Regions from separate parts of the Homo sapiens genome. Here regions 2, 3 and 4 are each linked to region 1. Evidence: fine-mapped expression QTL. A gene starts in region 1. Each other region holds a variant in brackets. All regions are shown on one strand. Distances are between the middles of the regions.

Region 1 (4,000 bases):
CAAGGTTGAGAGATTGGGTAGTTTAAAAAAAATTATAGAAGCCATTAATTTATTTGATGGACTCATTGATCCTTTGAGATCGTTACATAATTGATATTCACACTCAGAAGGGTTCCTGGTGTTCAAGTGGCAGAGACCCAGCTTCAGCTTCACTCTTGAAGTAGAGCAGCTGCAGCAGGTGCTAGGAGAGGGAGGCGGCTGTGCGAGGACTGGGTGGCATCTCAGTTCTCCCCACTGCCTCCTCTGAGCCCTCCTGGCTGCGTTCCTTTGTCTGGAAAGTGGGAGACTTTTACCTGTGACTTGTATAATAGTTTATGTTATTTCCCTGGGTAGAGTTCCTCTGGCACCTATTGTTGCTACATGATAACTACTCTCGTTGTTGACTGACTGAATACTGCTGCTGCTGCTGCCGCCGCTGCTGCTACTACTACTACTACTACTACTACTACTACTACTACTACTACTACTACTATTGCTGCTGCTACTGCTGTTACTGCTACTGCTACGGCTGCTGCTGCTGCTGCTGCTTGTTGTCTACTGTTACTAAATCTTCCCTGATGTCCAGGAAATACTCAGAGTAACTAGGAAAAGCTCTGCGGTATCCATGAAGTACAGAGTAATATTTGATCCCCCCTTTAATGTTCATTTCTACATAACTTTTAGACAAATCCCTTAATACCTCTGTTTTAATTTTTCCCAAGAGGTAAAAAAGACTCCACTGTTAAATGTGAGGAAATAATAAAAATACAGACTTTTAGGAACACATATTTTGGGTGCTACTAAACCACCATTGAACCGTAGGTTGGTGATCCAGCTATTTTCCCGTGCTTTTGTGCATCTCTCTCTTAATTTTATTAATTTGTCATTTATGATGTCTGCTCTTCTTGCCTTCCCAGCTAGATGTGAAGTTCTTTGAAGGGAGAGATACTCTACCTTATACTTTTAGTATGATCCTCTCAGCACCTAGTACTGGGGGTACCTTCTGATACCCACACATCTGGACTTAAAGTAATATTCTGTTTAATAAATGCATTTACTATGATATGTGGTATCCCATGAAAATGTTTTGATGACCTCATCTTTCTGGCATCAAATAGTACATAAATTAAGTGTTTCATGCTGTGGTCTGTCATGCGGGGTGAAACTCATTTCCTCCACCTGTATCCACGAGGTGCAGGCTATGGGAACATACTTGCTGGTAGCTCTTCCCTGCTTTAATCATCAGCCAGGCATTTGGTTTTTAACCATAACACAAATGAAAGCATTCCAAAACTGGAAGAATTTTAGAACAAGCAGACAACCTTGCTGTCTCTTAAGCTCCACGAGCTTCAGATTTAAGGTAATTATGAAGGAGTCTAACTGTGACTGGTTTTCTTTTAAACACTGCAGTATTTTGATTCCGATTGATTTGGCCCACGCTGTGTGGAACAGACACAATAAAGCCGGTCTTTATCAGAGAGGCAGTACACTGTGTATTGTTCAGCTTGGAGTTTGTTTTCCTTTGGCCAGCAAGTAGGAGCCTCCCCTTTTGCATGGAGTAGTAACACCCCTGGAGGCTGGCCTTTGCTGTCATGCCTTCCCACCCCACAGGCTCTGCAGACCCAGCCAGCGGGGCTGACCACTTGTGCCTGGGAAGCCAGTTTCCTTTCCTTCCTTGGACCACTGGCATGCCTGTGCCTTGCACGGCCAGGGACTCGCAGCTGTTCCAGTTGCAGACTTTCTGACTTGCGTTTTCAGCCGAGAATGCAGGCTGATAAATGCAGGACAAGTAGTAGAAGTGTCAAAAAGGAACTGGTGATTGAGTCCCCCCTGCAATACAAGGATGCAGCTCAGGGCGAAGTGGAAGCAGAGAGCCCGGGCCCTGTGCCGGTAAGAGGGTCTCGTACAAAGTGTTGCTGTGTCTACCCAATGCTGGGTTCTTATTGTGCGTGTGGACGGGGTTGACGCCTGTTGCCTGTCTTTGATTTCAAAACTTGCTCTGCTTGTCCCTTGTGAACTCCACTCTTTCCCTGTAATATGACTTCGATTCCCCTTTGATTCTTCTTTGTGAAGAAAGAAATGTTGACATTTTGTGGGTGAATATGGTTTCTGGGAGGTTTCTTTGTATGGGACAATTATGTATTGTTCACAATTATGTCCCACCTAGCTGCAGTGTTTGCAAATGTAAACCCAGGAAGCATATTTTAATTGCAACTATAGGGTTGAAAAAAGATGTGCTTTGCAAAATTAAAACCTTTTCTACGTTATTTATGCTATTGAGAAAATGAGGCAGGTCCCATTGGGGGTTTTAAGGAACATAACTGTTGGAAATATTACATAGTTTAGAAAGGATAAAATCACATATGTTCTTCTCACTCATTTTACCAGGAGGTTTGCCTTGAATAAAGTAGGGAAGAACCTAAACTGTGAACCAGCTGATAGAAACGTTTCTGTTCTTAACATCAGCTAAACTCTCAGCATTTGTCTAAAGCCAAGTGCTTTGGTGGACTTTGGAGGGGAGGAATGTGAAAAATGGTTGTGTTGTTATCATCAGTGAGTAGGTTGTGCTTCTCTCGGAATTTCTTCAGTACAATAAAGGCACATAATTTTTTAAGCAAGCTGCACAAAACCACCAACATGCCCTGCAGAGGGGGGACAATTGAGCCTTTCAAATTATCTGCTAAAGAGATTGTTAAACTGATATGTAGTGATTTTATTTAGTGATTTTTTTTTTTCTTTAACGTGGAGGTTCAGTTGATGTTACCATGAAGTGTTTGCTTACTAATTTACTTAATTTTCAATTAATGTCTAAGAATCTGAACTTAAACTTTCCTATAACAGATTTGATTTGAACTGAGTTGCTTTCTTTGTGACTCGTGAGACTGCCCTATATTTTATTGCCTTCAAAACTATATTGCTAACCCTGAACTGAAAAGTTAGTAAAATATCATGGTCTTTTTCACTGCAGATTTTCATCTTAGAGATTTAGGTTTCTTTTCTTCACCCTCTGCTACATTGTTTAGAAATGTAATTCATTGTTCTGGATTCCTTGCTGCCAATATAATAGCCCACTTCTCTGTTGGGTTGCTCACAGGCTGTATGGATTTCACTGCTTAAAGCAGCTGATGTAACTTAGGATTTCTTGGAGGAAGTTGTGTGGTTTAGGTTCCCTTGTGAATATTCTTAAAAATCTTCTGTCAGTGATTCTCCAGCTGTGTAGAAATATTTGTCTACAGGACTGAATACACTGTAGAAAGATGCTATGCAATTTTTTTTTTTTAAGCACACAAGTGACTTCTTAAACTTACTTCTCTTTCTAGTGCTCAAGAAATTTGCCATTTATGTCCTAGCTATTTGTTTAGGTAAATCTCACTCCAGGCAGTTCCTCTGGGGGTCTTTTTCCACTGCAATGGATAAAGCTGTGCTGGCTACAGCTGCATTTGGTGGGAACACTTGTCAGGGCCCAGCAGCTTGTGGCAGTGTGATCTCAGCTCTGCGCACCTGCAGAGAGGGGTGAGGGAGTGAGGAAGCCAACAGTGATACCAGAAGTTTTTTCTTATCGGGCAGTGTTTCTCTTCTTCCAGCAGGGTAAACAAGATAAGAAGAGCTAATGTCAGATCAGGGAAGCAAGGATATTTCAGCAGGGCCTTTGCCGAGGGCAGATCTCTTACCTGTGGCTGTTGCTGCCCACTGGCAAACAAGAGTTCAACAGACTGCTGGAAAGGCAACTTGTTTCTCAAGATGATTTTTCAGAAGGAGGCAGACACCATTGTGCAACCTGTTTGTGGCAGTACTATTCATTGTTCGAATGTCAGTGGCCCACGGGCTTGGTAAGAATCCCCAAGACTGTCTATCATTTGAATGCATTATACCTAGAGACGTTTAAATGTAGGTAACATGCTTTATTCAGGAGGTAGCATTTTGAAATAAAGTTTTGCTGTTTTTAGTTATGTACAGAAACAGTCCTTGGGGAAAAATATTACATAAATTAAAACGGATAAAATTAATTAATGCGTGTAGT
Region 2 (4,000 bases), 77 kb before region 1:
GTCAAACAAGCAATGATTGGATAGCCAGGGAAGCTGAATTGCCTGTTATTAGTTTGTATGGTGAAACATCTCACAATTGCACTTTCAAAAGTATTTTTTACATATATATTCTAAAAATGATCAAAACATTTGGCACTCCGTTTACAGGAAAAAAATATATATTTCCAGGGAAACTCTCTATGTTCACTAAACTGGAAAGACCTTGTGGAATTTAAATTTGTCATCTTCAAAGGCTTTGGTATAGAATACAGTAACCAGACCAGGTTCTGTTTCATTCAGCTACAAAGGCACTTTTGTTGTTACCATTCCACGTCCCTGTGATGCTTAGTGCAGCTGATATTTGGTCCTGACAGTGCTTTTGGAAAGCTTGGCTGATTTCTGAAAAAAATCCCAGATTCTTTGGCCTAGGAATTTATCATAGGCCTCAGATCCTGGGTCTAGTCACTGCAGACAGCTAGTATATGTTAAAAGCTGTCTTAGCCTGTATCTAGTGTCTGTCTTCATTTAAGGCTGGAGAAAGGCTGTACAGGCTTATTAGGCACAGCTGTTAGGAACCTAGAGAACAGTTGACAACTGTGTGCAATATTATGGTAATAGTATAACTTATTAATAATATCAATGTAGTCAATATTATCAATGTAATTGAGTAATACAGCTTAGGCCACAAAGAACTGCATATAGTTTTCCATTAAAATCCCAATCCACATTCCATATGCCTCTCTTCCTGCTCTGCCCTGCACAACTGACCCTGTGCGCCTGGCTGCTCCTCTCTTCTAATTTCTCCCATTGCGGTCCCCTCCACAGTTAAGCACCGGCTCGCTTTCTCTTAGGTGCGATGCCCCCTTCCCCGCACTGGAGGCTGCCCAGCCAACGCAGACGTTCCCACTTCCTGTTCACACAGAATCGCCTCTTCCTTTCTCATTTCTCACAGGGAGTCCTCTTTTCCTGCTACCGCATGGGGACACAGATTTTGTTTTTGAAAGTTTGTAGAAAGTTCCTTTAGTGCTAATCTCCAATGGGACCCTACCCTACACAGAGGGCAAGTTATTTTCTTCCCATTCTGTTTTTTGGAACTTTTATTTAATTTCAGACTTATATGAAAAGTCAAGGATAGTATAAGGAAGTCCTGGTGTACCCTTTAACTAGATACCCCGGTTGTTTCAAATTATTATTTTTTGCTAATCCATAGTAGTAGAGTAATGGGCCATTCATTCATATGTTCATTCAAGAAAATTTCATAGCAGAACCTTTGTGCAAAAAAAGTGGATGAGGCAATTCTTTCCCTGCTTCATTTCTACTATTAGCAATTCATGACTGATTTAGCTCTTTGGTTTGTGAAATGGATGACTGAAAACCTCTCCTAAGTTAGGAAAGTAAGTGAAGAAGGCACTTTAAAACTGAGGTGCCATCTTTTTTGTCTTCTCTGTGGGATATTCATTTAAAATTTTTCTCGTAGTAAAGGCAAGCACAGATGGAAGGTGGTATAAGGTTCAGCCTCATCCCTTAACTTCAGCCTGATGGTGCTTGTGATAGTGCTTGATTTGCTGGTGATACTGGCGTAGTTAAGAATCTCCCAGCTTAGGAGAGAGAACTTAACATGGCAAAGGTAAAAAGAGGAGCAGGTTTCATCAGACTATTGTGCTTTATGCTTGAGGCAGGGCAGTAGCAATGGAAGAACTTAGATGTGATTCTGGGCTTATGCCTTCCCTCTTGCTTGCCCTCAAACCCTGTCCAACCAACAACTAACAGCAAACCAAGTTTTTAGATTTATCACAGTTAGGGACTTAACTGCTTTATGTGGACTTGTGTGGCTTTCTCAGCTATTCTGTAAAACCTGCTTTATTACCATTGCTATTATTTCTGCTGTTGTGAGCTCAGTGTCAGTGTCTGGTTGTTAGGATGTACAAAGATTCTGGGTGAGGCTATGTTGGTCTAGAGCTCTAGGTTATAGTGGGCCATGGAAGCCCACCTTTCAAATTTTTGGCGAGGCCACAAATTACCCCATTAAGGGTCTCAGAGCATGGAGAGTAATGTTTTTATGTTTTAATTACTCTAGACCAAGGCTGTTTTTTTTCTAAGTGAGAGCACTAATATTTGTAATTTTGCAGCCATTGGGTTTATAAATATGCCTGAGTAATCCCCATGAACTAGATTTTAGAGTGAGCCACCAGAAGAGTCTCCTCTTTTGAGATGCGGCAAAGAATTGCAGTGTCTTACAGTGGAAAAGGAAGACAGTGAAAAATGATCTATGCAGAAATTCACCCCTGGTTTTGGCTTTTGACTTCTTCATGACTCCCCTTTCTTGCTTACCGTGTTAGGCAGATAATCTTCTTTGAGATGTGGTAGTCAGACTAACTCAGCCCCATCTGCTTTGTGTTTTTTTTTCAATGCAAGATTAACCCTGCTTCCAAAACCTCCTGGTGTTTTCTTGGGAGTAGGAGGGTGAGTGAGGGGAGGTGGAGGGTGTGGGGTGCTT[C/T]GCTCCTCTTGTAATAACCCTCAAGTGTGTGCTATCTGATGGGCCCAGGCCACATGTTGTGCTATCGCTGGGGACCAGGTAACAGTCTGAGGTTTCTTGGTTACAGTAACTGATCCTCACTCCAGGCCCTGGCAGGAAGGAGAACCCTCCTGCAGTTACTGAAACCTGGTTCCCGGTTTTAATTTCTTTAATTCTTTTGTACAAGGGTCTGAGTTACAGAGGTTTCTCCTTGTCTCAGAAAGTTCTTACCATTGGCTTTAAATAAAACCAGGTGGCTTTCTTGGTTCAAGTGGCTTACAGAAAGAATACCTTAGAAAGCAATTTAATTCAATTACATTTAATTAAATTATATTGAATTTGAATAATTAAATTTATATTCTAAGTTTTTTTCTTAGAAGCATAATGAGCTATTTTAGAAATATGTATTAAGGTTGCTGGTTTTTTCCTTCTGCCACAAAACGTGATTTGCATGGGAAATTATTTATAGTAGCTTAGAATTCTGAACAAGAGTGACAAAATTTATCTTCTTTGCTCTCCTGCAAATTTGTATAGGCTTAGGAAATTTTGTCATTTAACAAAGCTCTTGAAATCTCTGTGGCTTAAGTTACTGTGGACATAATTCTTATCTGATTTCAATAGAAAAGGACAGTAGGGATGTGAACACAGTGGCAGCTGGGAGAGGGCGCAGGAGTGATGTTAGTGGTAATCTATTTTATTTTCAGGTGTGTTTAGGAACTGGGCTCCTGGAGACAACCAAGAAATTGGGAACTGGAAGTGGTTTGACTGAAGGAGTAATGGGAGAGACTTCATCCCAACGGCGAATCCCTACTGAGGCCTGAAAAACCTACCATTAGAAATTCATTAGCATCAATAGAGTGGAGAGACAGCCAATGGAATGGGAGGATATATTTGCAAATTGTACATCTGATAAGGGATTAATATCCAAAACATATAAAAAACTCAACTCAAAGTGAGAAAACAACTCAGTTAAAAAATGGGCAAAGAGCCTGGGCAACATAGTGAGACCCTGGTCTCTACTTAAAAAAAAAAAAAAAGAAGGCTGGTGTGGTGGCATGTGTCTATAGTCCCAGTTACTTAGGAGTCTGACGTAGGAGGACCACTTGAGCCCAGGAGTTCGAGGCTGCAGTGAACCATGATTGCACCACTGCGTTGCTCTCCAGCCTGGGTGACACAGTGAGACCCTGTGTCTACCCCCACAAACCTCCCCAAAAAAAAGGGCAATAGCCATTTTTCAAAAGAAGACATACAAGTGGCCAACAGGTATATGGAAAAATGCTCAACATCAATAATCATCAGGGAAATGCAAATTAAAACCACAGTGAGATACCACCTCACACCATGGAACCCTTGGATACGGAGTGTGGTCTGTACTTTGAAATCATTTAGGATAGCAGAATATTTTGTGGAATCTAGGGAGATGGGGAGCTGAGGTCAGGGAGAAGTAAGCTGTGTGCTGGCATTTGTTTACCAGGAGATCCTTCCATCCTACTCCATGGCCAGGCA
Region 3 (4,000 bases), 35 kb after region 1:
CTTTGTATTTGTGCCAGCCTTTCTAAATGAAGGTGGAGGCCTGATAGGCTAGGAGGATGATCTGGTCATGACCCCGCTGTCCTTAAGTGAGGTTCAGCTGATTGGCACCTCAAAGGGTTCTCCCGCCTTCCTCGCTGTTCCCAGGGTATCCCTCTGCATCCCCATGAACTGTTACAGGCAGGGGAGGGTGTGTGGGCAGCTGTGTCCCCATGTGCCCTGGCATAGGACTGTAGGGGATGTGATTGAACATGTTATGCGGGAGCAGGACACACACATGGAACACAGTGTAATGGTGCCCTCAGGAGCCAGAGAACTCAGCGGAACCATGATGCCTCCTGCTGAAACAGTTAGGGTACAAGATCAGTGTGTTGATTTTTATGCTTACAAAGTATTTCATCATTTTCTTTATTTTTTTTTTCCTCAGCCTGCTGAGGGTAGTAGCTTTTTTTTTTTTTTTTTTTCTCATATAGTGGACACTGTGACGTGATTTTTGCTCCATATTGTGCTCAGGAAAACCTAGGATTAAGTGGGTAGTTGACATTAACTACACATGTAACTAGAAGAAAGAGAGCACACACGTATGAAATACCACCTGTATACATCAAGTAAATGTAAGATGTTATTCTCTTATCCTGAATGAAGGATATTGATGAACCCAGTAGTCCATCATTGTATGTTTGTGTTCCCCATGAGAGGTCACATTCTTCTTTTCTTTTTAAAATAACATTTAGCTGACATTTTAAATATGTCAGAGAGAATGGTAAAATTCTACAATTGGTGGAATTGGATAAATGCAGACCATATTTGCAAACCAATGAGGCATAGAAGGACAATTTTATCTATGTGATTAGTGTATATGTCTTAGGATATTAAAGGTAATCAACAGGCATGGATAGAGGAAGATTTGAACTAAGGATGATATCTTCCGTCAGGGGTAGCTTAATCAGATGGAAATTTATGAAGTATATACTGTGTCTCTAGCATTCATCCCCTATCCCTCTTTATTATGATTATTTGTAACTATGAAACTGCTTTTTTTCCCCTAAATAGAAAATAAAGCCTCCATGAGACTAGAAAGCTGTAATTTTTTTTTAAATTGTAAACCATAGTTTTTTGAAAATTCATGTTTACATTTGCCAACATTCCTACAATAGTATTTTATCCATAGTAGACACTTAATAGGTATTACACAAATGAATGGATATGAGATCTTGGCACCAGTGGCCTTTGAGGTCATTAGAGCATATCTCAAGGTGGCAAATCATGGGAGTAGAAGTAAAGTAGACAGTAAATTTGCATGCAAAAACGAACACACACAAACGAAGAGTCCTTAAAGGAAATGGAAATCCAGGTTTTGGCCTTAGAATTCCTAGATGTCATTTAACGTATGACCAGGCACAAAATCTCTATGGTTCCTAAAACAAAAACAAGTCCAGCTATGTCTGTATCTCTGCCTTTTTCTACCAGGGTTGCCTAGAAGAACCTAGATAATATTGAGTGTGTCCCACATGGGTTTGAGCAACACCCTTGAGTGTGTGCATGAGATCCAAAGAGGACAGATTCAGTAAGTTTATCAAAGTCCCCTGATGTCAGAAGTCTTGAGTCACAGTGCCTTCCCCATCTGCTTAGCATTATATCTACAAAGCTGACTCTCCGCTGTGTTTGAAGTAAGGCTCTGGATGGCAGCCCAGGAGCTGAAATGCTGCTCTGACAGGAGCAGTGTGGCGCTGGTCAACTCAGAGGGATTTGAGTGAAATTATACTCAGTGCATAAGTGAAACCTTACATATGGATGATGGGTGGCACAGTAGGGAGTATGTCTTCCTAAGACAAGTCCCGAAGGAAAGTTCACTGGTGTATCGAGATGTATAAATACAGTCATGCACTGCATAATGACCTTTCAGTCAACAGTGGTGGTCCCATCAAATTATAATGCTGTATTTTACCATACCTTTTCCGTGTGTAGATATGTGTAGGTACACACATACTTCCATTGTGTTACGTCTCCCTACAGTAGTCAGCACAGTCCCATGTTGTACAGGTATGTGGCCTAGGAGCAATAGGCTACACCCTATAGCCTAGGTGTGTGGTAGGCTATACCATCTAGGTTTGTGTAAGTACACTTTATCAAGTCTGCACAAGGACAAAGTCACCCAATGATGCATTTCTCAGAATGTATCTCTAGCGTTATGCAACACGTAACTGTGATGGACATGTTTTAACTTGAAGCATATCCACTGTGCTAGATGTTCACACAGAATTATGGTCCTTTTAGCAACTAAAATAGAATTCTAAAGAAAGACAACCAGCTGGGCGCGGTGGCTCACGCCTGTAATCCCAGAACTTTGGGAGGCCGAGGTGGGCAGATCACGAGGTCAGGAGATCGAGACCATCCTGGCTAACACGGC[A/G]AAACCCCATCTCTACTTAAAATACAAAAAATTAGCCGGGCGTGGTGGCGGGTGCCTGTAGTCCCAGCTACTCGGGAGGCTGAGGCAGGAGAATGGCGTGAACCTGGGAGGCGGATCTTGCAGTGAGCCAAGATCGCGCCACTGTACTCCAGCCTAGGGGGACAGAGCGAGACTCTGTCTCAAAAAAACAAAAAAAAAAAACAACAAAAAAAAAAACATAACCAGAGACACATACAGACAACTGGAAAACAAAAGAAAGTAAAGAAAGTACACTTACTTACACCTACCTCAAGGTTGAGTGCAATGCACATGAAAGAGTTGGTAGGTGCTTTAGACACTAGAGGTAGTGACAGGACCCAAGATTTAGTCGTATGTCCACAGGGGTTTTAACTCAGGTCTGTCTCTTATTACTCTGATCCTTTCATAAGTGATAAACCTTCCTAAAACTCACTTTTCTTAATCTGTAATTCAGTGATGATATTTCCCCTAAAATTTGGTTCTCACAGATGTTTGAGAATCCAAAGAGATAACTACCATCCAGGAGAGCTCTGCACGCCCTTGCTACTGCCCTTCCATTGCTTGGCAGACGCCAGGTTACTAGGGAGCTTATTACAGCCTCTATTCTCGCCTCTAGGGAATGTCATTTTATTTTTGAGGAGGCTGTTTTTAGTTGCCATCCTCAACTTTAGTTGTTCAGCAGGCTCAATCCCTTACTAAATGGGAAGGCAGACATACCACGTGGGCCCCAAATGACCACAAGGCTACTCCTGGTTTTCTGGGTAACTCTCCTGTCCTCAGCTGTGCAGTAGTACTTAGCAAGTGATTTTAAAATTGCTTCTTTGTAAGACCAAAAAAATATATAATTCTTTACAAAAATGCACTTAATTCATAACTAGTTATTAAGGGTTCTGAACATTTATGTTATTTAGTTTACTGCATTTTAATAAACAATCGTGTGCTCTTCCATTTAAGGGATTTGAGAAGGTGGCAGAATGAAATTCATATGACTCTCAAAGTCTACTGAAATCTGACTTTTCAGGAAGCAGTACATTATTTGGTGAAAGGAACTGTCTAAAGTCTCACGTGTTGCTGAGACGCTGTCTCATTTGGAACCTCATGTGATCTCACAACTAAATTGCGCAGTCCCTCTTTTAAAGTCCCAACTTCCCATTTACTCAGCAACATTCATCTTGTGCCAGGTGTTCTGCTGGGTATTGGAGAATTAAAGATGAATAACATGGTCAGATTCTCAAGTCAGGCAGGAGACACAGAAGTATCTTTGAGTAATCTTAGCAGAATGGTACGTGTTCCTGAGACCAGTCTGAGCAACTTGGTGTCAGTCAGAGGGGCCTGGTGCATTAGGGAATCAGAAATAGTCCATGTTGCTGGACTGTTGGAGAAGGGCAGAAGAGTCCAGAAAAGTTAGTACGGTTGGTCACAAAAGGTCTTCGGTCATGCTGAGGAGTTTGGATTTTATTCTGGTGGCAATGAGGCGTCACTGAAAGAATTTCAGCTGAGGCATGATGCTATCAGATGAGAGATTTAGAAAGACAAATGGCAGGTGTGCAGAGAATAGATAAGAGGGATGATGGA
Region 4 (4,000 bases), 27 kb before region 1:
CTGTCACCCAGGCTGGAGTACAGTGGTGCAATCTTGGCTCACTAAAGCCTCTGCCTCCTGGGCTCAAACCATCCTGCCACCTAAGCCTCCTGAGTAATTGGGACTACAGACAAGCACCACCATGCCTAGCTAACTTTTTGTATTTCTTATAGAGACGGGTTTTCACCTTGTTGTCAGGTTGGTCTGGAACTCCTGAACTCAAGTAATTCACCCACTTTGGCCTCCCAAAGTGCTGGGATTACAGGTGTGAGCCACCACACCCCACCATGCTTTTTGCTTTTTAAAAGTAACATTTGTTGTCTTTTATATTTAGAATACATAAGTACTGTAGAAAATTTAGAGACCACAAAGAAGAATAAGAGGAAAACAAAAATTACCCATAACTCACAGCCCAGAAACCAAAACTGCTTAATTTGTGGTATGTGTTTTCTGATATTTTTCTCTGCTTCTGCAAATATTAAAAAAGGGATAATTGTCCATAAAAATTTCTGATGCATTTTTCACTTACTGTATTTTATTATGAGCATTTTCTTATGCCCATAAAGTTCTGCTAAAACATGATTTAACATATGTATAGTATTCCATTGTAATATATGTACGGGAATTTATTTAAATACTTCTCTGTTGTTCAGTATTTAGGTTGTTATAAATCGAGATTACAGAAGACATCTTTACCCAAAAATCTGTGTGGATCTATAGTTATTTTTGTAGGCTAGATTTATAAAAGTGAACTTGCGAAGAATGAATTTTTTAAAGGCCTATTAAGGCATATTGTTTTATTGTGTGATGACTGATCCAAGTTACACTCCTAGCAGCAGGGACTATTAGTGCTTTTTTTATATATGATCCTGGCTAGCATCATTTTTGCCAGTTTGAGAAACAAAAGATAACACCTTTCAAACTCTAAATCCTTCGTTATCTTCATCACGTGTTTCTCTGTTTTGTCATTTGCCTTTTGATTTTGTTTAATTTCTTTATGGTACTTATTTTACTAACTGAGGTTTGAATGTAAATGGTATACATAACCATCTTTTCCTCTGTGGTTTCTTCCATTACCTTTATGCTTAGAAATTCTTGCCTATCTGAGATCAGATATTCACCAGTATTTTCTTTTGGAATTTGTTTGTTTATTTACTATTTGTCTTTTCCCCTCAGGGTTAGCAGACTAAGTCTATGGGGCAAATCTGGCCTGCTGTCTGTTTTTGTAAATAAAGTTTTATTGCCACATAGCCACATTTGTTTTTTTATATTGTCCAGGCCTGCTTTAATGGTGCTAGAGTTGAGTCATTAGGACAGACACTTATTTAAGTCAGCTGATAAAGTCACCTGATAAATATTATCAGCTGACCTAAAATATTTACTAGCTGGCCCTTTGCAAAAAGTTTGCTGTGCCCTGCTTTAGTAGATTTAGAATTTATTTGGATTTATAGTTTAGTTAAGATCCTAATTCAATTTCCTACCCATTTTTCCCAGTCCCATGTTGAATAATCCATTCCTTACTCAGTGGTTTGTGATACTGCCTTTATTATATTTTATGTTCTTTTATATACTAGGCTTTGCAACAATTGGAAGAAAACCCTAAGGCCTTTTCCTTTTTCCCCTACTCCCCATTTTTTTCTTTAGTGTTCTCTGTGC[C/A]CTGCAAAAGCAAGGTTCTTATACAGCTGTCAGTTTAATTGCAATTCAGGAAAAATGAAAACAAGAAATTTGGGGAGAGACATAAATTCTATAATTTAAAGATAGAATAAACAGACTGTACTGCGTAAGTTGCTGAATTAAGTGATCTTATGAGACATATTGGTTAAGATTCAGGAGCTAAGGGTTAAGGTTTAAGTGAGCAGTTAATTATATTTGTAGGTTTGTTTCCTCAGTAAATAGCCTGTTCATAAAATAGATCAAGCTTGTCTTTATGTGGACTCTCTGGGGCATTTTGATGAAAGAAAAATTCCAGCGTGGCAGCTGCATCCTCAAGTAACCTTGATTTGAATCTACTCTTTTTTTTTTTTTGGTATATCCGGTCTTTGCTAACAAAAGAAGTCCCAGCAAAATATAAGCAAAGGTGCTAGCAGAGTTTCCAAACAAAGTCTATTCATGTCTGCAGGAAATATATCTGTACATTTATAGATGAAGAGTACATTCTGGTTTTCCTTTTATACATTATACAAATTCTAAGGATAATTAATTTCCCTCCTTAACTAGATTTTATAGTGTATACGAAGGTTTGGATATGAATATGTGTGTGTGAAGTACATGTGACTGTGTGTGTGTGTGTGTGTGTGTGTGTGTGTGTGTGTCTATAGTTTTTTGGTCAATGCAGTACTAGAATATTGAATAAAGGTGTACTTTACTATTTTTCAAATGTCAATGAACAATGAATGACCTCATCCTAGGATACGTTTCAATCAGCATTTGTTTCTCTGCCAAGGAAAAACACATATCCTAGGAGACTCAAAGTAGAAATGACTTGTGAACAGAAGCAGAGGGACCACTTGGAGCCAATTGCCGATGATAGGTGTTTTCTCTGCTTCTTGAGTAGGTTCTGCCTTTGCAGAGTCTGTGGAGTGAGACTGTTTATGGGATTCTCAGATGCAGTCCTGTATGCTAAATAGTTTTATGGATGTTTGGTATTTCCTGTATATTTTCTAGGCTTAAGAAACAGGTAACAACATTATCAAAGACTCAGTCTTGTAACTTATTATTTCCTTGTGCTTTCTTTATTGTTGAAGAACAACTGGAAGAGAATCCTGAGGTCTTTTCCTTGTTCTCCCCCAACCTCCCATATTTTCTTCAGTTCTCAGACATCCATTGGATGTTTGCCAATTACAGGGTGGTATGATATGAAAGAGTCATAATCTCTGCTCTCAGAGGGCCCATAAGGCTGCCACGTGGGATATGGGCCATGATGGGGGTAAGCACAGGTACCACAAGCACCTACGCAGGGCTCCTTGTAGAAGGATTTAACCAGGTGAAGGAGAAGGAGAGGGACGTTTCTGCAGAGGGAGCAAAGTCCCAAGGAGGGAGAGCTGAGGGCTCCTTGGAACTGCTAGTAATTCCACAGTGCTGGAGGGGGCTTATCAGGCTGTAGGACAATGGTGGGAGTAGAAGGGTGACCAGTGAGGCTGGAGAGGTAAGCAGGGGACATATCATGGTGGGTCTTGTTGGAACTTTATTCCTGTATTAGAGGGAAGCCATTTAGTGAAGGTTTTAAAGAAACATGTTCATGTTTTTAATGAATCTCATACTGTACTTATCCTGCAGGGTGGATAACGGCTTAGAGAAAGGAGAGGTCTCAAGACAGGAACACTAGTGAGGAGGTCATTGGGGGGTCACAGGTGATGGTGGCCTGAAGCAGGTGGTGGAGGAGATAGAAGATTTAAGAGAGTGTTAAATGAGAGATTTGGCAGTTAAATAAGAGACAAGGAGTCAAGAGTGTTGGTATTTGTGCCCTGGGCACCTCCAGGGTGCCACCTGCTGAGGTGGGAGCACTGAAGGAATGGATCAGGAAGAATTGGGAAAGGAGGATTTCAGTTCCAGACATCTTGAGTTTGAGGTTTAGCGCATCACAACATGTAAACCAGTGGGATGCGACTAGTAGGACCATAGCTAGAGTGTGGATCCCAGCACAGACAGATGTCTGGTAATGAAGGATGGAAGGGGATGAGATCTCCTGGTGAGCGTATTCAGAAGGCAAAGAGCCAAGGGCCCTGGAAGGGACAGGAGAAGGAGCTGGGAAAGGAGCCTGGAGCTGAGTGCTCAGGGATGGGGAGAGCCTGCTGTGCATCTGGAAACAGAATCTTAGCTAAAGAAATAAATGCCAACGGCTTGAAGACCTCTGTCTGAGTGTGTTTGTTTAAGCCTCTTGCCTCTAGTTCACCAACACCATCATCTTTACTGTCCGCAGGAACATTTAACAAAATATGTTATGTGCACACCATCCTTTTAGGCACAACAGAATTTCAAGGTATCCCCTTGGCCTGGAAGGGGCTTGTGTAGTAGACTGGGG

Alleles and levels. Positions count from the first base shown, and alleles are read on the strand shown. Sizes are in standard deviations (SD) of each study's normalised expression. Not every link is listed here.
As copies of A replace G in region 3, the expression in sun-exposed skin of the gene that starts at base 1,589 in region 1 goes up (small effect, 0.18 SD a copy in GTEx).

Evidence for each region. PIP is the estimated chance that this variant, and not a neighbour inherited with it, causes the effect.
Region 2: its variant is the best candidate, but not a certain one, in a credible set for the expression of DOCK9 in whole blood (INTERVAL, PIP 0.78).
Region 3: its variant is the best candidate, but not a certain one, in a credible set for the expression of DOCK9 in sun-exposed skin (GTEx, PIP 0.59).
Region 4: its variant is the best candidate, but not a certain one, in a credible set for the expression of DOCK9 in fibroblasts (GTEx, PIP 0.74).

What each region holds. Positions count from the first base shown.
Region 1 is chr13:98,975,653-98,979,652 of GRCh38, reverse strand. DOCK9 (dedicator of cytokinesis 9) reads left to right here and starts at 1,589. Exons shown (of 53, transcript NM_001366683.2): 1 at 1,589-1,869. The coding sequence starts at 1,744.
Region 2 is chr13:99,052,299-99,056,298 of GRCh38, reverse strand. It overlaps a transcript of DOCK9 not described here. Among named protein-coding and RNA genes, the nearest start is that of DOCK9-DT, 32 kb to the left of the region's middle. The variant C/T (reference allele first, on the strand shown) is at 2,477.
Region 3 is chr13:98,940,844-98,944,843 of GRCh38, reverse strand. All of the region lies in intron 2 of DOCK9 (dedicator of cytokinesis 9), which reads left to right. Among named protein-coding and RNA genes, the nearest start is that of DOCK9, 35 kb to the left of the region's middle. The variant A/G (reference allele first, on the strand shown) is at 2,408.
Region 4 is chr13:99,003,076-99,007,075 of GRCh38, reverse strand. It overlaps a transcript of DOCK9 not described here. Among named protein-coding and RNA genes, the nearest start is that of DOCK9, 27 kb to the right of the region's middle. The variant C/A (reference allele first, on the strand shown) is at 1,636.